Linked DNA regions of Homo sapiens. The protein of the gene in region 3 interacts with the protein of the main gene of each other region in a biochemical or structural test. Each region holds a gene or a part of one and is shown on either strand. Other genes may lie near its edges.

Region 1 (7,693 bases), on a different chromosome or scaffold from region 3:
TCCTGCACAAAGCTCTGCCTTCAGTATAAGTAGTGACTGGTTTAGTGGCTACAACCTCTAAGTTTTCAACAACATTAAACTATCTGGTGAAGCTGTGAGTCCCGTGCTAATGAAGCTGTGACGACCTTTCACCATGTGTTTTTAAAAAGCTGACTACTCCTCAATTAGATTTTTAATTCTGATGAAAATGGCATCTATTAAAAGTGAATGCCCTTGAGGATCCACATCAGGAAGGAGGAAGCATAAAGGCTACCAAGCATTGATGACTGTGATGCTGGGGGCAAAGGCCAGTGGAGATTTATCTGTGGTTTTTATTAGGATGGTTGTTTTCATTAGTGCTCTGACTATAAAGTTGCATTGGATTTAAGTGGTCTTTCCTAACCATATTTTCCCAGTAAGCCCTGCTATTTTAGGTGTGCAATTCTGCAAAACAGGAGATTCTTCAGTAAAGACAATATGACATTATAGTAGAATATCTGGCATTTTTTAGAAACATCTGCAGGACATCTAGTTTGGTGTTAACCATGTAGTATACCTGCTTAATACCTGGTAAATACCTGCTTATTCTTAGGAATCCTTTAATGCATAAACATTTTGCTGTGACCTTGGAGGTGGTTCTCATTTTTTTCAAATCCATGTTTCATCTATGAACGACACAGACTGTTCAGATGAGAATACACTGTAGACGGGAGACATAGAAACTCAGAGGGGTACTATCAGGATGGTCAGAAATCCTCAGGGGTAATAGATGGCTCTAAGGTCAGTTTGAAGACAGAACCCAGTAGCCTTTTATTGGTCTCCCCCAGGACTGGCTTTTAAATGCTGATTGGGTGCTACATTCATGAGAGTCCAGAGGGAGAGACCACAAGGTCAGTGGTTCTAACATACATTTAAGTTTTGATATCCCAATTGATGGTGGTAGCCTCCTTCTTTCTTCAGCATCAGAGAAGAGATGTTCCATCCACCAACCTATTTGTGTGACCCAGGAGGGTAAAAATAAAGGATTACAGATGCAGAGAGATCTGCTGTAGGACCACAATTGGTGAGGTGCTTGGTTCATAATCAGTGGACAAAGAGTCCTTACCGAGAGCAGTGGCTCCTTTCCTGTGTTAGTTTCTGCCAGGCCAATGACCCTGAAGCCTGAAGGAAAGGTTTTTGCTTGTTTTTAAACCACTGTTTACATTAACTAGAGCAAAATGCTGAAAAAAACATCAAGAATTAAGACGGGCCAAAATAACCACAATAAAGTCAAATGTAAGACATATCAGGGACAAACTTTCATTTTTTGCAGAAAAGATTATCAATCTTTTACATGTACTTCTAACTGGATATGACATGCAGATTAACCTGGCCTGAGGATGATGAAACCCAACCTTACATTCAAAATAATATCAATACATTTTCAAGTCTATTTATACGTTCTAAACAGAAGTAATTCATATTACAATGGCCTCCTTATTCTGCTTTTCCACTTTTTAGTTTTTATTTTTATGGAGACAGAGCCTCGCTCTGTCACCCAGGCTGGAGTGCAGTGGCATGATCTCGGCTCACTGCAACCTCTGCCTCCCGGGTTCAAGCCATTCTCCTGCCTCAAGCCTCCTGAGTAGCTGGGATTACAGGCACCTGCCACCATGCCCTGCTAATTTTTGTATTTTCAGTAGGGACTGGGTTTTTCCATGTTGGCCAGGCTGGTCTCGAACTCCTGACCTCAGGTGATCCACCCACCTCAGCCTCCCAAAGTGCTGGGATTACAGGCGTGAGCCACCGTGCCTGACCCCCTTCCACTTTTTAAACAACAGTAATGAAACTTATTAAGTAGGGGGCTTCAATCTGGAAACTCCTTATCTGTTCTGCTGCTTCTCCTGCCAACAGTCTCCCCAGCTCCCCACCAATTTCTTAACCACAGGGCTTCTGCACATGCTATTGTCATTTCCTTTGCCTGAATGCCCTTCACTGTCCTTATTTGCCTTGTAATTGCTTAATACATTTTTAATATCTTTCCCAAGGTTGGGCGCAGTGGCTCATGCCTGTAATCCCAGCACTTTGGGAGGCCAAGGCAGTCGGATCACCTGAGTTCGGGAGTTTGAGACCAGCCTGACCAATATGGAGAAACCCAATCTGTACTAAAAATACAAAATTAGCCAGGCGTGGTGGCACATGCCTGTAATCCCAGCTACTCGGGAGGCTGAGGCAGGAGAATCGCTTGAACCTGGGAGGCGGAGGTTGCCGTGAGCTGAGATTGCGCCATTGCACTCTAGCCTGGGCAATAAGAGTGAAACTATATATATCTTTCCCGATAGCATGAAAGCTCCCTAAGACCAAACCATGTCTGTCTTGTTCACCACTGTACTCATGATGCCTTGCACAGTACCTCACACTTAGTAGGCTGCCAACAAATGTTAACTTGAATCAGACCCTTAAGACTCAGCTCAAACATCATCTTCTTTGGGAAGGTGTCCCTGAGCCTCTGACACTCCGATAGTTACCTCTTTCATGTGCTTCAAAGGCTTCCTGTTCATATCTGTTATAGTGCAGTGCAGTTCTTTAATGGTCTGTCTCTCCCAGTAGGCTCTGAAGTTCTAAAAGGCGGAAACTGTGTCATCTTCATCCTTCTTACTCATGACACTCTGTATCACCTAGTGTACTCTAAGGAGCTGAAGAAATGTCTACTGGGCAGATTACTGAACCATGTTTGCGCTTGGAGGGCCCTCAGCTATGGACCACACCTATGGCACAAACAGGAATTACGCATTGGCTAAACAGGTCATGTCTTTCTGAAGCACCCATTTTGACTCAATTTTTCAGGAGAGGAGACATTTATATAAATTGTGTTTGTGTGTGTGTGTATGTAGTGAGTTGAATTCAAAATATACACTAAACTTTAAGTAAGTAAAACGGGAACTTCAACAAAGCAAAGTTACCATGGGGCTCCTTGAGCACCCTGTTTGGGAGCATGTATTCCCTCTTCTCTGCTGTCCTTTGGTAGCTTGCCACCTTAGGAGTAGAGAAGTCACACCTCCATGATTAAAAAGAAAGTCAGCCGGGCACGGTGGCTCACGCCTGTAATCCCAGCTCTTTGGGAGGCCAAGGCAGGCGGATCACCTAAGCTCAGGAGTTTGAGAGCAGCCTGACCAACACGGAGAAACCCCATCTCTACTAAAAATGCAGAATTAGCTGGGCGTGGTGGTGGGTCCCTGTAATCCCAGCTACTTGGGAGGCTGAGGCAGGAGAATCGCTTGAACCCGGGAGGTGGAGATTGCGGTGAGCTGAGATTGCACCTTTGCACTCCAGCCTGGGCAACAAGAGGGAAACTCTGTCTCAGAATTAAAAAAAAAAGAAAGTTAATGACAATGACAAAGCTAGAATTAAAGCTGTTTTCAGATATCTGGTGTTCTTTTCATTCTACTGCCCAAGTTAGCTGTCTCCTTGCACCTATAGCATGGTCAAATGCATCCTAATGCACTCTCAATAAATATGTTCAGATACAAATTCCATTCAGCATATTAAATTTAGGCCGAAGGGGAGAAGGTCAAAAGGAGTCATAGTCTGGAGATATCTTCAGTAATAGGTGTATGGCATGTTTATAGATTTCATATTTAAATTTACTTTATAGGTAGCTTTCCTAGCATATGTGCTCCTATTCTATGATGGTGGTTCATTCAAATCCTACCCACCCCGTCTAATGTTCTCAGTGTGTACCTTTACTTTTAAAGGGCATCATTTAAAGAGGATGGAAGAAATACAGTGTGGGTACTATATTTTGTCCTGAGGACAAAATGCTAGGTATGACGCAAGGACTTAAGACTATCGTCCCAACAGTGCCCTGCTGCTGCACAAAAACACCTAGCATTTGTCTAGGGATTTTCATTTACAACAAAGCTTTGACACACATGATCTTATTCACTCCCCACAACAACTCTAAACTAGTTCGGGAACCTGAAAATAGCACTCAATTCAATTGCTAGCTGTATGTAAGTGTTTTGGTTATAGAACCTAACAATCCCCTAGGGATTAAGCGGTGGGCGCCTGCTGCTTCAACAACCCTGCAGCAAGGGAATAAAGGAACAACTGTATTTCTTCGGTCACAACGTAATCACGACAACAGAAAGCACTCACTCTTTCCACTCTGACCCACACACAGTCTGTCGAGGCAATTAATCAGCACTCCCGGTGGTTTTCCTATAGGATGCCAGTTCCCTTGCCAATCAAGTCTTTCCACAGACTGTAGCAGGACCACACCCCCGGAGAGGCCTCAGGGAGGGAAGGTGCTGTGGCCCACAGAAGTGAAAGCTGATACTCAGGTTGACCCGCCAGTGAAACTTACAGGCGGATCTTCCCGGGCCTCAGTTTCCCCATCTCTAAAATGGGCTACCCTTCCTTTCTCTTGACTAGTTCCCTCCCTGTTCTCGCTGGGCCACTAGGAAGTGAAATCAGTGCCTAACCGCAGCTGAAAGTGCTCTGTTAGGCTCCAGTCACCGCGCCGGGCATGCTCAGTAGCTGGGGCCGGCTCGGCTGCGGGAGTAGGAAGCAGCTTTGCGCGCCCGGGCGGCCGATGCGGGCACTTTGAAGAATCACGTGTGTTGAGGCCCTCTTAAAGAGATAGGCACCTACTTTTCCCTCCACCCTAAACACCGCCCTGAGGGCGGCGGCGACCGTGGTAATTGCAACTGCTCAGGGGCAGGGCTTGCCCCAGCGCCGAGTAGTGGCAACGGCGTGGTTGCGTCGGGGGTGCCTGGGAGCCTGGAGTCCCGGGGGCCTGAAATCGGCAGCTTCCCGGGCAGACACTCTCTCCCTCAGGAAGAGGTGCCGCCGAGTCAGCGCGGGGCAGTGTGAGCGCCCCGAGGTGCTTTCTCAGTTGAGGAGAGGTGGGGTTACAGGGCACAGGTGACAGGGCCGGAGAAAGATGGAGCAGCCCGGGGCGGCGGCGTCGGGAGCGGGAGGCGGCAGCGAGGAACCCGGTGGGGGCCGGAGCAACAAGCGGAGCGCGGGGAACCGGGCCGCCAATGAAGAGGAAACGAAAAACAAACCCAAATTGGTGAGTGCTCCCGCAGCCCCCGCCGGCCTTAGGGACAGGGAGAGCCCCGGGATCCTCCTGCCATTGAACACGGGGGCACCCGGGGCCCCCTCCCAAGGATGACCGCGACCTCGCTGTGCAACTCGGGGAGCCGCTAAAGGAGTGGCCACGCCGAGGCGCGGAGACGGCGTGGGGGCGGAAGAGCACCCCCTTCTCTACTTAACCCCTTTCTCACTCTTGTCAGCCCGGGAGGCGGTGCGGGAAGGAGAAAGGCCCAGCCCCAACTTGGGGACACCCCGAGTACTGGGTAGGGCTGTTGTTTGTCTAACTTGTGGGCGCAAACCTTTGCGCGATTCCATTCTCCTCCCACTTCTTGTTAGTTGCTGTTTTGCCTCCTAACGCGTAGGGTCCGGGGCAGGGGAACCTCCCTCCTTTTTATTCCAAGTCCTTGGGAGCCCACCTACAGCTTCGCAAATCAAGAAGAACACTATTTATGCTCCCAGTCTTTCTACTTTACCAGAAATCTCAGGAAGAGGCGCCTACGTGCCTTTTTCCTCCTCCTTGCCTCTCTCCATGTGCTCTCCCAAGAAATGTTTCTTTGGAAGGGTGGGGGCGCGTGGGAGTTTGAGGCTGGGTGAGGTACCACCAACTGTCGAGTGTGTGTAATAGGCATAGTCATACAGTACTTCCACTTAGTTGATTAAGAACGCTCAAAAGCAGTAGGCACAAACTGTGCAAATCTCACCGTGCTGATAGTGTGAACCGATGGTAGCAGTCCATTTCCTGCCACTGAATGTGCAGAGGAATGAAATCGATGAGGCCTGGTATTGCATTGGGAAATACTGGAGTTTCCTCAGCTCATCAGAAGGGTTCCGCTTTTTGTAAACTTTCTAATTTGGGTGGTGTGAGGGGAAAGGGTTTTCCTGTACAAATTCAGCAGATACTCCTTAGAGCTGTATTCTTAGTCCAGATCCGAAGCACAAGCCACATGTTGAATGTATAGATTTCAGCTTTAACTACCAACTTGATTATAATAGACAAGGAGAGGGTGACATATAAATAAAGCCGTTTCTTATGGCATCTGGCCATTTGGTTTGGATCCAGTACAAAACTGTGGTTTAATCAGTGATTAAAAATTTAAGTAAAAAGTTAACTGATAGTTTCCACAAATGGTTTGGTACGTCTAGCAAGAATCTGCCACTTTTAAGAAGTATGCTTTCGAGAAAAAAAAAAACACTTATCTCTGTTAGTAGTAACACCTTGATTATATTCTTCTCTTCCCTTTAGCCATTTGTCCTGATTCATCTTTTATGTTTTACTTGCTTTGACAAGGTAACTAGATAGTTATGAGATCGTATCATTTTCAGTTCCTAGCTAACTTCACTGTTCCGGTTCCTAGCTAACTTCACTGTTCCGTGTTGAACATAGCTTGATACGGTAGAACAAGATTTGAATCCAAGAGTTTGTTAATATTAACATGAATTTTCTTTTTTTGCTCAAACATAACTTTTGAGCCTTACGTGATTTTACAAGCAGATGTGTCAGAGTTAACAAAAACAAATTTAGGAAGACATTGTGGCACATTTTAAGGCAAGCAAGTTGACCAAACAGTAAGATTTAGTAAGCTTTTCAGGAAAGAATTCATCTGGGATTCTTAGAAGTTTGCTAGTAAGATACAACTTTACTTAGATGAAATTTTTTTATTTTGAGTATTATGTTAATAATCTCTGAACTAGTCCTTAATTTGTGTGTGTATATGAGTGTAAAGGAGTTGTGGTATGGGATTATAAAAGAGAGCCATATGGTGATAGAAATTATTTGTGTAGGTGATCTTGGGGCATAGGGGTTCTTAAACTCCTGAAATTGTATGAAAATATTTGAGTGTATATGGGTACATTTATTTTTCTGGGCCCCATGGCTTTCATCAGTTTTTCAAAGGCATCCATTACCTATAGAAGAGTAAGAACTATGGCATTACAAAAGATAGAAAGTAAAGGAAAGAATAGTTGATTCCACTCTAAGTTACTGAGTAGGGAAGAAGGGGAAATGGCATTGACCACACAGGTGATTGATATTGAAACGAATTCTTCTAGTGGTAAAAAAGAAGTTAACTACTCAATGTCTACATAGATTAAAATTTCCGCTACAGAGGAAAATTAATTCAGTCGCTCCAGTATAATGGATTCATAAGGTATAAGGCTTGTGTAGTTTGGTTGTTTTCATTTAGTTCCTCAGAATTCTGGAAAAATGGAAATGGAACACATATTTTCTTTTCTTTTTTTTTTTTTGGGACGAAGTCTCGCTCTGTTGCCATGGCTGGAGTCCAGTGGCGCGATCTTGGCTCACTGCAACCTCTGCCTCCCGGGTTCAAGTGATTCTCCTGCCTCAGCCTCCTGAGTAGCTGGGATTACAGGCACGTGCCACCACACCCAGCTAATTTTTGTATTTTTAGTAGAGACGGGATTTCACCATGTTGGTCAGCCTGGAAAGCAGATTTTCTATAGAGAGGAACTGCTTTCATTTATATCCTCAACTTTTTAATGAGTATTAGTGAGAAATTTTTCAGAGTGGCATTTCAACACTATAATGATTTCTATTTAAGATTACTTAAATAAAAATTTAATGGAATTCACTTCAGTTTTTTTCATATAAGCATCCTCATAATGACCCTTTTGTTTT
Region 2 (7,026 bases), on a different chromosome or scaffold from region 3:
CAAACATACTAAATCAAATGCCAATTTCTGGGGCTATTTACGTGATCAAAGAAATCAGCCATAATCTATCTGTCATATAGGTTTAAACGTTTAGTCTACCCTCCTTGGAATAATGTGCTGAATATACAACCAAGGGCTCCAGGTTTAAAATATTTGCAGATAATGACCCTATTTCCATAACCACTTCAATGCTGTGATTTCTATTTTATCCTCTCGAGGGATGAAAGGGCTATTAGAAAACAAACCCTATATGGTAATGCTCACTATAACACCTATCAAACGGGTCTACAATTAATTTTTCTGCCTCATTCCTAGATCCATTTTATCTTTGCCCATAACTTCCTCTATAAAACTTTTTAATATTATTGAGGAGAGGAAAATGGGTACAGACCCCTCCTGACATCAAACAGCCATAGTTCATATCCTTAATTTGGCTTAATGTGTAAATTATGTATGTTGGTACCTTGCATTTACTCTTGATTTATCACATTAGTTTAATGTTTTCACGAAATTGTCTTTATGTCCAACTGCTGTAAATCTACATGTCTTATCTTCAAATTATGGCGAAGGAAGTCTTGGTTAATCTAATTCTCTGCATAATCATAAAGAGATGTAAACACACTGCTGACTTTTTTAGAGGCTCATATCTTAAACTGAAATACTTATTAATAGGCTGCTACATGCATTCATTATCACCCACTTTGAGTGTCATAAGAAACTGGGTATTTAAGAGAACACATAAAATTTGTACTTCATAAAACGTTTAAAGTACTGATACATATTTTAACACCAATCCTCCTAACACACTTTCAAAGAAAACAGAAACCAAATAAAGTTAGGGAATCTGTGGCACAAGGAGAATCACTGACTGACCCAAGTTCATATGTTTGGTAAAAAGAACTAATATAGTACCAAGAGCCTCTTTAGCAAAGACCACACATGCCTAGAATAATGTACACTAATACTGGATTTCTATATAAAGAAAAGATTTACCAAATAGCTAGTCAGTCACTTTGGACCCACAAAACTGATGTTCATTATGGCTATTTTAAATTATTTCCTAATAATTCTTACTGATATGGCAGTTCAAAAGTTTACACTGGCCTTGTTTTTAAACTCTGCAGCATTAATGACCAGCAGTTTACCCTTACTCATTTATTTTTAAAAATAAGATTCACATCTATCTATCCATCCATCCATGCATTTATTTATTTTTGCACTCTATTTATTTTTGCACGTCTAGGCTGGAGTGCAGTAGTGTGATCATGGCTCACTGCAGCCTTGACGTCCTGGACTCAAATGATGCCCCAGCCTCAGCCTACCTGGTAGCTGGAACTACAGGCACATGCCACTACACCTGGCTAATTTTTTATTTTTTTGTACAGACAGTCTTGCCATGTTGCCCAGGCTGATTATTCATATCTTTTTAAATGTTTGCACACATTAGGGTTTTCAAACACATATTAACAGTAAGGATGGCTTACACTCAGAAATTTCAACATTACAAAACAACATTTTATAACAAGCCAATTGGATCACACATTTCCTGAAGGAAGGGGCTTTTGTCTTAAACTGCTGGTATTCTTCCCGGAGTCTGGCACGTAACATCGGGTACACAAATATTTGACTGGCAGGAGGGAGGGAATGGGGAGAATAACACAACAGGGTCAGCAAAAGCTGAAGAATGGAATTTGCCACAATATATTTTCTTGGAGGATAGGCTGGGCAAGTGGGTTATTCATTTGTTCAAACCATCCTGAGATTTATTTTCATGGTGATGGTCCAAATGAAGTAAATTAAAAATAGACCACATTACCATCAACAGCTTTTCTAGCATATTATAATTCAGTAATAGTGGTATTTTTCACTTTATATAAGATTCACTGTGATCATGCAGTTAGGATTACACATCTTCTGGAATTTCAAAAGTAATCAGGCAGTAATATAAACTAGTCTATCCTGATTAAAGCCATATATCCAAAATAACTTCTCCCCCCCCACAAAAAAAAATCCCTGAACTTCATTCGAGAGAAGATCTAAAAAAGTTAACTGATTTTCATATTCAGGAACAATCTTCGTGGGCCTGGATGTAGCCAAAATGTGAAAAGGATGCTAAATTGCTTATCACTCACACTGAAATGGATAGCATGAATGTAATTTACTTATTCCTGGTCATTCAATCTTATCCTAACAATGAACCTTTACGTAGGTTCAATATCATGTATGTACAAAAATCTGAGGCTACAAAGCTTTCCCTAAAATTTTGAAATTAAGGGGGGAAAATCTGCCCCAATTTCATATTAAATTTAATCTTACAGTATATCTACCTATCTCTTGATAAATTTATTAGAATTAAAAATGTCTTCTAATTCTAGTAACTGTTAGAAGCTAAAAGTTTCCATATAATTTGAATTTTTGTGTTTGATTATTCTTTCCTTAAGAATATGTAAAGATCAGATCTCCTGTTTTAGGATCATGTAAAGACATAAGAAAATTGCAGCTTTGAAATTTATATGGGTCAGTAACCATGCACACAAAGAGAAAAAACTGAAGACCGTGCTCTTCAGTTTCAGTAACATGTCTGCACCTATTTTCAAGATTAGCTTCTCAATAAAAGTAAGGAAAACGATGACTCATCGTCAGCCATGCATGCTATAAGGAGACAGCCTCTACTCTTCCATAGCTCAGTTTTTCCAAACTTACTGTTTTCCTGCACCCTGGCCACGAAGCCTGTGAGAGGTATCTGTGGAGTCAACTGAGGCATAGGGGGAGGGGGTGGAGCAATAGAAACTGGTAGCAACAACACAGTATGGGGGAAGTAAAACAGATAAAGGAAAGAAAAGGAAACAAACAAAAAGCAGAAGTCAGTTACAAGGACCACAAACATAAGTATGCAAAGAACAGTTTGCAAATGAAACAAAACAAAACAAAAAACAAAACAAAAACCTGCAGAACCTTGGAGTACATTTCCCACAAGCAAACCTAAAGGCCAAGTTGTGCTTAGCCAATTAATTAATTTTATAAAAGAACAAATATACTTAATTCAATCCTAATGTTACATTGTTTGGGGAGGATTTAAATTTACCATCACATTCACTTTAGTAAAATAAAATTTTCAAATTCTAAGGAAAGACTTCTAAAATAGGTAACAATGAAATACCTACATAGGTTTCCAGAATATTGTGTCTTTGCCATAGCTATAACAGGTTTGTCTAGCTTTAAGGTAATGTTGTAAATTAGGACCCAAATAAATAAAACAAATATATAATAGCTATTTATTTCATATATCAATAAAAATATTAATCACAGGTTTCCTTTAAAGACAGTTCTTATTATATATCTAAATTCACACACAGCTCTCCAGGAAAAACTCTTGTTTGTAAAACAAGGTTGTTATTTTTTTAAGTTGGCAATTTTATGTTTAAAAATATCAGTCCTAAATTTACAAGGGAATATATCATGTTAATCAGTCAGAGTTTCATGGGATATCTCAAAAGTGACCTTTTCATCACTGTTCTGAAAAAGGAAACCTGATCTCCAATAAGTTAAAATACGTAGTTCTTTGCATTAAAGTAATTTTTAACAACTCATTGGATAGCTTGAAACACATTCATATGCATTTGTGGAGATGACATAATTGACAGGAAATTAATACCAAATACTCATGTATTAAAAATTATAACATACACTAGAAGTAAACATTCATATGTTTGTGACTTTGTCTCACTTTAACAAGACAGTAATTGCCAAAGATTGCTTAGAAAAAGTCAGTAGGACTAGATAGCAAAATTTAGTCTATCGGTAGTCACCAAGTAGTAACACTAAATTGATAGAGAAAAACAATTTATTGGTTACCAAGGATTAATCAAAAGGTTGTTTCAATTAATCCAACATGCAAATTCTGTTGGTAAGCATAAAAATTTGAAAGAAGTTCAGTGTTCAAAGAAGTAACAAAGCAATTATGTGCATTAATATTCATTGTATAGCTAAAGATAACATTCAATTCACTATGAAAGCAATCCTATTTCATTCTAATACTCTATAGAAGGCTCCTAAATAAAAGGTTAGAGGTTTTGACTTAAAAAACAAAAAACTCTCACAAACCTAAAAAAGTGTTTAGAAACAACTCTTAGTAACTAGCCATGCTGGTTAGTATGTAATGAAAAAGAAAAGCTATGCTGTGAAGATACTAATCATTACTACATTTAGACAGAAGGGAAAATGTGCACATCAAAACACTAAAAACATTCACGTACTACTACTACTACTACTACAACACCAACAGTAACTCAGATTGAAGGATAATTAATTTGACAAAACATAATAATTTATTTAAAATCTGAGGCCAAATTTGCTTTCCAATATTCAAAAGAATGTGGTCATTAATTAAAGTATACGGTTTGAAAATAATCCACACAAGCATTGCTAAAATAAAACTATAAAACTATGTATTATATAAAAAAGTCACAAAAATCCTATTTGCAGAGTAAATTAAATGTCTAAGTGGGGAAAAGAAAAATAATACACAAAAAGATGGGATCTAAAAATTCAGAATATGAAAAAAATAAAGTTGATGAAACAAGTGAAGTGAATTATTAGATAATCTGGAATATTTAGACAGACACTGGCTACCTTTTGATACCAAATGTTAGGTAAAATCCTATTTAGTGAAGTTTAACACTTCTCAGTAGCTTTAATATTTTAGTCTGGAAAAAAAGCTATATAAATTTTGGGATTATTTGTGAATTTTGATATTTCTGATAAAGTGGTTTTCAATTCTTAGGAATTTTTGCTATAACATAATTTATGTTTAAAATTTAAACAAAAAACTAATGAGAACTTTCAGTGGCTCACGCCTGTAATCCCACCACTTTGGGAGGCTGAGGTGGGTGGATCACCTGAGATCAGGAGTTCGAGACCAGCCTGGCCAACATGGTGAAATGCTGTCCCTTCTAAAAATACAAAAATTGGCTAGGTGTAGTGGCAGGCGCCTGTAATCCCAGCTACTCAGGTGGCTGAGGCAGGAGAATCGCTTGATCCTGGGAGGGTGAGGTTGCAGTGGACCGAGATCGCGCCACTGCACTCCAGCCTGGGCGACAAGAGTGAAACTCTGTCTCAAAAAAAAAAAAAAAAAAAAAAAAAACTTTCCCCTAGCTCTGCTTTAAAATACATATACAGGTCATTCATTATAAATAAAAAGAACTTAAAGCAACCTCCTATGTAAATATGGAGAATTCACTGAGTATTAAGTGTTTTTATATAAACAAAAATAACATGTGGCTCTAGAAAGAGCCACAAAAGCCATGTAGGAAAGCTTGTCTCATTCTATGCCCAGTGGGCACAACTTTTTAAGCTAAAAGCAAACAGTGGACAACAGGTTCATTTCTAATTTTGTTTTTTTTCCTTTTTGCATTGAACATCTTAATATGGAAAGTGATATTAATGACTACCCTACACTATTCTAACTTCCTAACATTATATGCTAAAACTATTTTCTTTTCTTACCAGCTTTTAAACACTGACTGCAATTAGTGTTGAGATGTGCAATTTGAGGTAAACAGAAAGAAATCAAAAGAAATTCCCACCATTAGAATTATTCAAAGACAGAGTAATTAAGCAGGCATCACAAACAGTTTTAATCGGTTTTGAACTCATTTCTGAACACGTTAATGACCTTAAAAGTGATAGCCAGCAATTTCATTATATTAATTTGAAGGAAAACTTTGACAATGTTTGTGTCTTTAATTTTACCATTACTACGCTGTCTCAAACATGCCAATAAATTCAGTTTATTTCTGCAATGTTTTTGTTCTCTAGTTCTACTTATGTAATAAAATCGCATATTAAAGTTAAATTTTGGTATACTCAATATAGACACGTCTCGATAAATTTAGTTAAGTATACTTGGTAAGTCTAAATTTTGGAAGAGAAAGTGGTAAACAATTACTCTTAAAATGGTATGATTCAAGGACTAATATCCTAAAACAAAAATAAACATGAAACATCATGGTTTTCAATTGTTGTCTATCACTGGCAAGAATAACAGTTTCAAATAATTTCCTTCAAAAGGAGCTCCACTGTTGCTGTATGCCTGCAAAGCACAAGCTTACTTGAATTTTGAGAATAAAGTGGACCTCCATTAACATGAGGCTGAGCAGAAAATTGAGCAGTCACAGAGGGAGTTCGTCTGTATCCACCAGAAGATGTCGAAGAAGTAGTAGAGTTGTGTCGAGATATCTGCCTGGTCATTGTGCCATACTGGGAACCAGGAGCTGAGCCCGGGGCTGCTGAAAAGCATTAGTCAAAGGCAACCAACAAAGAGACTTGAGCATTGTAATCACCTTAGATGGCAGAACAAAGCAGGAGGGGGCCTCAGTAAGAAATATTTATTACTTTTTCAAGACCAAGGCACAAAATAAAGAGAAAAGTAAAGATAAAAATCAGTAACTTTATCTCCAAAGTCAAAAACAGAGAGAAAAAAAAACAGCTGCATGGAAAGCTGCAAAAGTAAATAAGTAATATTCTCAAGCTTTTAAAAACCATAATCCCAAATGGTACTTTGCTAATATGATATATAAATTTTTTGTGCATTTTCAAATACATAGCTTTTATATGTAAATTGTCTTTCCAATAAAATAAGTACCAAAAGATGGTGTGAGGTAGGAAGCATCAGTCTTTAGATATAAGTAGATTCATGTCTGAGTTACAAATTTCTTCCTTTCCACTGACAAAACTTTCAGAATTTTGATTTGGCTAGATAGAGTCTTATAATGATAAGTCTCTATCTAGCCAAATCCAAGTTAAACAATAAATTTTTATTTACTAATATTTTTGAGTTTTTATTGAATTAGCAGTTATTAGTATCAATACATATTAAGTAAAATCATTTTTAAGAAATGTGCCATTTCTCGTTTCAAAGCACTTTCATGTAATGTCAGATTTGTTGTAGATCTCCAAAGTTTTAAGATTAACATACATTTTCCCTATTAAATTTTTATAACTGACAGAAGCAGAAAATTTTTTGAC
Region 3 (7,026 bases):
ATAGTTATTAAAAGCTTACTATCTGGATGTGGAGGGCACAGGCTCAAATCTCAACATCATCACTTATTAGCTATGTGACCTTGGGCAAGTAATTTAACCTGTCTGTGTACCTATCTCGTAACATGGGTTGTAAAAATTAAAGGAGTTAATGCATGTAACATGCTTACAACAGTGCACTGTATATAAATCATCCAACTTGTGTTAGCTATTGTGACGTGATTTCTCAACTTCATAAACTCAACCCTTCAAAAATATTGCATTTAGAACATTATTTACATGAAAAGATAATCATTTTTAACTCATTGAGGGCATTATCCAAAATAAGTGTAGCTTTAAATGTGGCTCTAATTTTAGGACATGTAAACAACAACAAAAAAAGGACATTTACCAAAACTTAAGAGAAAATATTGCAGTTAGCCATGAATCTTTCAAAAACGTTTCAAACAGGTGAGATTCAAGGCAAATTTCAAACGCAACAGACACATGAGAACAAACTAACTGACAATATGAAAACATAGCTGGAAAGACCATTATAATCTGTTGGTTTACCTGGAAGTGGAATTGGCATGCCAGGAAGGGGAACACGAAACGGAGGTACCATTACTGGTGGAAAAGCAGGTATTGCTGTTGTTGGCTGAGGTACTGAATGAGGAACAGCAGGAGGTAACGTCTGAGGGTGCGGCTGGGGAACGGTTTGCACAGGTGTGGCTGTAGGAGCAGGAGTTGAAACACTAACTGTAGGCGTGGCAACTGAAACAGCAGAACTTGGGGTCTGATCTTGTGTTGTGGGTGCTGATAAAAGATAAAACAAAAACATGTATCACTCCTTCATAAATCATTTTACTATATTCATTCATCATTTACACATTCAGTAATTTAAGTATTTAAGGGACCATTCTATGCACTGCAAGAAATTTGTCAAAAGGTCTTATCTTCAAGAAGCTTGAAAATACTTAAATGAAATACAAAAATGAATACAAAGTAAAATGGGATAAACATATAGGAGTAAAAATCAAGACCCAAAGAACATTTCTAACTGTGAGAGGGTATAGAAAAGTTTATATTGGGATGCTGCGCCTTGAAAAATTAAGATTTCAACAAGAAAAACAGCAGGAAGGGGTAGAAGAAAAAAATAAACCAGTGAGAAAAGTATGAATAAGGCAAAGAGTAAAGAACCAAAAGGAATTGTTTAGAAAATTGAAGGCAAGCAATTAATGAGTGAAACAGTAGGCATACCAACAAAACTAGTGAGTTGTGTGGCTGGAAAGGTAGGCCAGAAGCAGAAATTAGAAAGCCTTGAACAAAAGGCTAAGGAGTATGCCCTTAAATGGATAGGAAAAGGGCAGAACTTAGGTAAATATAGAGAAAATTATCTAGTAGAATACAAGACAAAATACATTAATGGTAGTTACCCTCTGTGAATGCCTCTTTCACATTTTACTATTAATATATACGTTTTGTTAGACTTTGAACTTTTTATAAGAATGCATTCACATTATTTATGTGATTTCATGAAGGTAAATGGGTATATAGCAAACTAAAGGTTCCTGTATGGAAGAGTAATAAACAGGTTTCATTTGATGAATTAACCTCACAGATGCATAGGAAGAAAAGAACAGAAAAAGATAAGCAAATAACTAATGACTAACTGGATATGAATGAATGGAATCAAAAACAACTCAGGTTTCTCTCATTATTTTAAAAAAATAAAATTTTTTTAAACTGAGGTTTCCATTGTGAGAGACCAGGAAAATGTGAAATTCAGGATCATTTGGGTTCTGCTAACACATTATTTTTAAATATCGAAAATAAAACATCCCATTCCTAGTAATTGCATTTAAAATCAAACTAAAAACTAAAATCCTTATTTCATACTTTTCAGTTTCAATTCTCACATGTTACAAAACAATTTTGTTATTTATTCATAACCCATCTAGTTCCAAAATAAAATTCATTTTGGTAATTCATTGGTAACAAATACTTCATCTTTTTTTGATGTAAAGAAAAAAATGTCTACCTGTATCGGACTAAGAATGAATTTGTCAAATGAAATAAAATGAAAACAGTGCTTTCCCAATCTTTATGCCAACTTTGTTCTAAACAAAAGCACACTATTTAATACAAATCACCCAATAATCCAACTGACAACAAAATCTGTCAGTATCTTTTTCTAGCTTCTAATAATGAAAAACTCACTTAGGCTGGGAAGATGTGAGCAATTTCGTACTTGTTAATGAGGGACTCACCTTGGCTAAATAGACAGCAGGGCCAAACAAGTATCTTCAGGGGCCCAGGAATGAATTGTTGGTCTAGCATAGACCTAGCCTTAGGGTACAGTATCATATTAATATAATTTTATAACAGTGTGAAAAATACAAAGTACATGCAACATTTGCCCAGTCCCATACATATACCATTTAGCATTTGTAATCTACTATACTGGCTGAAAATGTATCTGGTCATTGTTCCCAACTTCCCTGAGAAGTAGGATTTCTTCATCATTTTTCACAAACTTGCACAAAATGAGTTTATGCTCAACTGGGATTAAAATATATTCTTAATTTTTAGTCCCATTTACCCCACAGATCTATACTGTAGCTCAGAAAATTAAAATTTAAATATTATTATAGTATTCAGATAATTGCTAAAATTGTGATCCAAAGTACTATAGTCAGGAAAATAAATAAGGGCATCAAATTTCAAGTGGAAAAGAACACCAATGGAGATGACAAAAAATATTTACAACCCATTCCTCTTACTTTCCAGCACAGCATTTTCTGAATTTGATTAGCAGCCATGAGTCACGACAGGAAAAGAACAAAAGCAATAAAATAATGGGAAACTGGGAGAATGGTATCTAAGACTTCAGTGGGTAAATTCCCACTAACTTCATTTGCTAAAGTAGCTAGTGAAGCACTAGGCCTCAAAATATACTAACCCAGCCTCAGATCTTAACTAAAAAAGACAAGTGACTATATATAATAGATGGAGAAATATTAAGATTGCAGTAAGACAACACTTTATGATACTAAATCAAGTAAAATAAAAACACACACTGGAATACGTAGACAACATCAAAATTGATGTTTAAAAGCAGTAAAAAGAATATGATTTTGCTATATTATATTTCTGGGAATAAAGTCCTCCCAATCACTGAAGAGTAAAGCAAAACTGACAAACAGGACACAAGACAGCTATGAGCTTACTGACACACTACTCTGAAAACAGACATGGACTATATATAGTATGGTTAAATTATCTAGCTCATCACCTTTCCTAAAACAAAACGAAGCACTACTATTTCTCCTTTCTAAGAACGCAGGAAAGAAAATGTAAGCAACACAGAGCCTCCACATAAAACTACATTGCTTTTATTAATCCCCTTCTCCCATTACTACCACAGGTCTCCCATAAAAACTGGTAGTCTCCTGCCTTGCCACAGAGGTTTGGGAAGCACTAAACCTATAAAAAGGTAACAACCCTTAACAGACTAGCTAGTATGACTGTTATACTTTCATATCAAAATTCACCTTCACTACAAAAGCAAACAGATTTGTAAAACACTATTCATATTTTCCTGTTCAGTACATTCCCCCGCTACAAAATGTCTAAAAACCATTAAGAGGATCTTTAAAGGCTATCCCCATATTATATGTACCTTACTTGACTGCTTCAGTTGCTTTTTATCAATAAAATAAATTCAAATTTGAAGCCAATGTGAATTAATTTCTCTCTTATACGTATTTCTTACACACTAATAATTCCCAAGTCCCTGAAGTAATCACAAAAAAACCCCACATTTTTTCTTTATTCTTATCAATTATCCTGGTAGTAAAATAATACAAATTATAATCACACTGTAGGGACAGCTGTGTATCTTGAGACAAGTGCCATAACAAATAATCAAATAAAAAAATCATTATTTAAGTACTTTCGGGCTTAGTCTCAACCTGCAGAGTAAGGAGCAACATCCATATATTGATACAAAAAAAAAAAGAAAAAAGAAAAAAAGAAAGAAACCCCCCAAAAAGAAAGCAATATTGTCACATTAATAACAATCTTTTAAGCAAATTAATAGCTGTGTCCCTCTCTTAATCTCTGAAATCTGCTATTAATCGACTCTCACCTTTTCAGAAAAGATCTACTCTTTGGGCCTCTGTGAGTTTACACCTGAAAATTCTCCTGCCTTTCTGACTGCTCCCTTCTATGGCAACTCCTCAATTCACCTACTCGCATCCCAGTCTAGAAACTATTCTAAAAGAGATTACTGAGAAGCTCCTAATAAACCTCCCTTATTTCATCACCACCCAAAAAACCAACACCAAAAAAAATCCTCCAAAATACTGCATTTATACAGGCCCCCAGTGCCTGTCTCACCTATTTGCCTAGTTCTTAAGACCCTTCAAAAAAAACACCCTCTCACCTCAGAAGTTTCCTAAAAACCCATAAACTACATTTATCATTTTCCTGACCTTTATTCATGTTGCTTCTCCTACCTGAAAATCCTTTCCTTACCTGTGAACCTGCTTAAACCCTACTCCGTTTCCTTCATGATAAATACCCATGTAGTCCACCCACTCATTTATCCACTTCTCAAATTCTTACATCTTTCTCACTGTATAGTTTTGCACACCAATATCTAATTGTTTAACACGTGTTATTCTTGCCTCCTCGATTAGGAATACTGGAAACTGTAAGGTAGGGACCAAGACTTACACTTATTTTGCAAACCCACAATGCCCGGCATTACTGTTGGCCAAGTGGAACAGCTAACTTTGCACTTTCTCAATTTAGCTTCATAAACTGCAACTGGGCAAATAATTTCTCCTGTTAATATAAATTCCTGTTTTCCTCTAACCCAAAAGTTTTAGTGTCAAAAATGTATTTTAAATAATTCTGGTATTAAAGGATAATACCAGAAACACTGGGATCAATATGAAATGTAGTCCCCTACTTGTTCATGTCTCTAGCCCCTATATAAAAACACATGCTGAGTGGTACTCACTTGATACTGTCTGCGCAACTGAAGTAGCAGTTGTTGTGGTAGAAGTGGTAGAGGAAGGGGTGGATGATGATGTTGAAGTGGATACTGCAGGTGCTGGGCTACTGGTCGTAGGGGTGGAAGCTCCAACTGCTTGTGCTTGCACTTGTGCCTGGACCTGGGCCTGGACCTGAGCCTGGGCCTGGGCCTGAGCTTGTGCCTGAGCCTGAGCCTGGGCCTGGGCTTGGGCTTGGGCCTGGGCCTGGGCCTGGGCCTGGGCCTGGGCCTGAGCCTGAGCCTGGGCCTGAGCTTGTGCCTGGGCCTGAGCCTGCGCCTGGGCCTGAGCCTGCGCCTGGGCCTGAGCCTGAACCTGTGCCTGGGCTGCAAGCATAGGTGTCAGTTCTGATTGCTGAATAACCTTAACTCCATCTGGCTTGGTCCATGCAGATTCACGTGTCCGAGCATTATAATAATAAACCTGCAGCGGAAGCAAAAATCAATGGTATCATAAAATCTGTCAGTTATTATTAAAAACAAGAATGGAACCATATTTTATCTTTAAAGCTATTTAAAAATAACGTAGGGCCAGGCGTGGTGGCTCATTCCTGTAATCCCAGCACTTTGGGAGGCAGAGGCAGGTGGATCACTTAAAGTCAGGAGTTCAAGACCAACCAGCCTGGCCAAAATGGTGAAACCCCATCTCTACTAAAAATATAAAAAAATTAGCCAGGTGTGGTGGCCGGCATCTGTAATCCCAGCTACTCGGGAGGCTGAGGCAAAACAATCACTTGAACCCAGGAAGTGGAGGCTGCAGTGCGCCGAGATCATACCACTGCACTCCAGCCTGGGTGACAGAGGGAGACTCCATCTCAAAAATAAAAAATAGCTGGGCGCGGTGGCTCACACCTGTAATCCCAGCACTTTGGGAGGCTGAAGTGAGCAGATCACCTGAGGTCAGGAGTTTGAGACCAACCTGGCCAACATGGTAAAACCCTGTCTCTACTAAAAATACAAAAATTTAGCTAGACGTGATGGCAGGCGCCTGTAATCCCAGCTACTTGGGAGGCTGAGGAAGGAGAATCACTTGAACCCGGGAGGCGGAGGTTGCAGTGAACCAAAGATCGCACCACTGCACTCCAGGCTGGGTGACAGCACGAGACTCCATCTCAAAAATAAAAAAATAAAAAATAAAATAAAATAAAATAACTTAGGGCCAGGCACAGTGGCTCACGCCTGTAATCCCAGCACTATGGGAGGCCAAGGCGGGTGGGATTACCTGAGGTCAAGAGTTCGAGACCAGCCTGGCCAACATGGTGAAACCCTGTCTCTATTAAAAATACAAAAATTAGCCGAGCATGATGGCAGGTGCCTGTAACTCCAGCTACTCAGGAGGCTGAGGCAGGAGAATTGCTTGAATCCAGGAGGCAGAGGTTGCAGTGAACCAACATTGCACTACTGCTCTCTAGCCTGGGCGACAGGGTGAAACTTCCATCTCAAAAAACAAAAACAAAACAACAAAAATAGGTAATTCCACCCCACAGCCCAATTTTCTATAATGAGCACAAAGGAAAACCCATGTTATGTTTTATGCAGAAATTCAACATAACAGACCTGAGACAGCTATCTGTAGAAAGCCCTGCTGACCCTTATCTGGAGTCCAAGAACTTGGATTTCAGGAGGGTTGACATTCCCTTACTGATAAGAATGGCTCGATGTGCCTAAACCAGCTACGCTGAACACCTGCTTTCCTTCTAGGAGCCTGGAATTTGGTATGTGCTAGGCAGATGGTACCAATGTGACCAGAAGCTTCCAGAATCACAGGTAAATGTGTGTTAGCACTCCAGGCAACCTTATATCTGCTGCACAAAAACTAAATCCAGTCAGCTTCTCCTGAAGTCTTACCCCATTCCCTGCTCACCCAGGGCTCATTCTTAAATGACAGTATCACTGACCTCAATCTGCCAGAACTCTTTAAGTTTTACTCCTCTGTCAACAAATGACAACTTAAATATATTTTATTATTTACCTTCCCATCTGGAGTTTTA

The links. Proteins that work in one complex are often made in the same cells at the same time.
Region 1: the proteins of TCERG1 (region 3) and DIAPH2 form a complex in vitro, tested with the Homo sapiens proteins (one study listed by BioGRID).
Region 2: the proteins of TCERG1 (region 3) and ABI1 form a complex in vitro, tested with the Homo sapiens proteins (one study listed by BioGRID).

What each region holds. Positions count from the first base shown.
Region 1 is NC_000023.11:96,680,156-96,687,848, forward strand, and holds the start of DIAPH2 (protein diaphanous homolog 2), read left to right. Parts: upstream 1-4,686; 5' UTR 4,687-4,903; coding exon 4,904-5,035; intron 5,036-7,693. UniProt on the Homo sapiens protein: Could be involved in oogenesis. Involved in the regulation of endosome dynamics.
Region 2 is NC_000010.11:26,752,952-26,759,977, forward strand, and holds part of ABI1 (abl interactor 1), read right to left. Parts: intron 6,288-7,026; coding exon 6,111-6,287; intron 2,791-6,110; coding exon 2,704-2,790; intron 1-2,703. UniProt on the Homo sapiens protein: May act in negative regulation of cell growth and transformation by interacting with nonreceptor tyrosine kinases ABL1 and/or ABL2. May play a role in regulation of EGF-induced Erk pathway activation. Involved in cytoskeletal reorganization and EGFR signaling.
Region 3 is NC_000005.10:146,457,317-146,464,342, reverse strand, and holds part of TCERG1 (transcription elongation regulator 1), read right to left. Parts: coding exon 7,008-7,026; intron 5,460-7,007; coding exon 5,006-5,459; intron 2,326-5,005; exon of another isoform or gene 2,247-2,325; intron 793-2,246; coding exon 550-792; intron 1-549. UniProt on the Homo sapiens protein: Transcription factor that binds RNA polymerase II and inhibits the elongation of transcripts from target promoters. Regulates transcription elongation in a TATA box-dependent manner.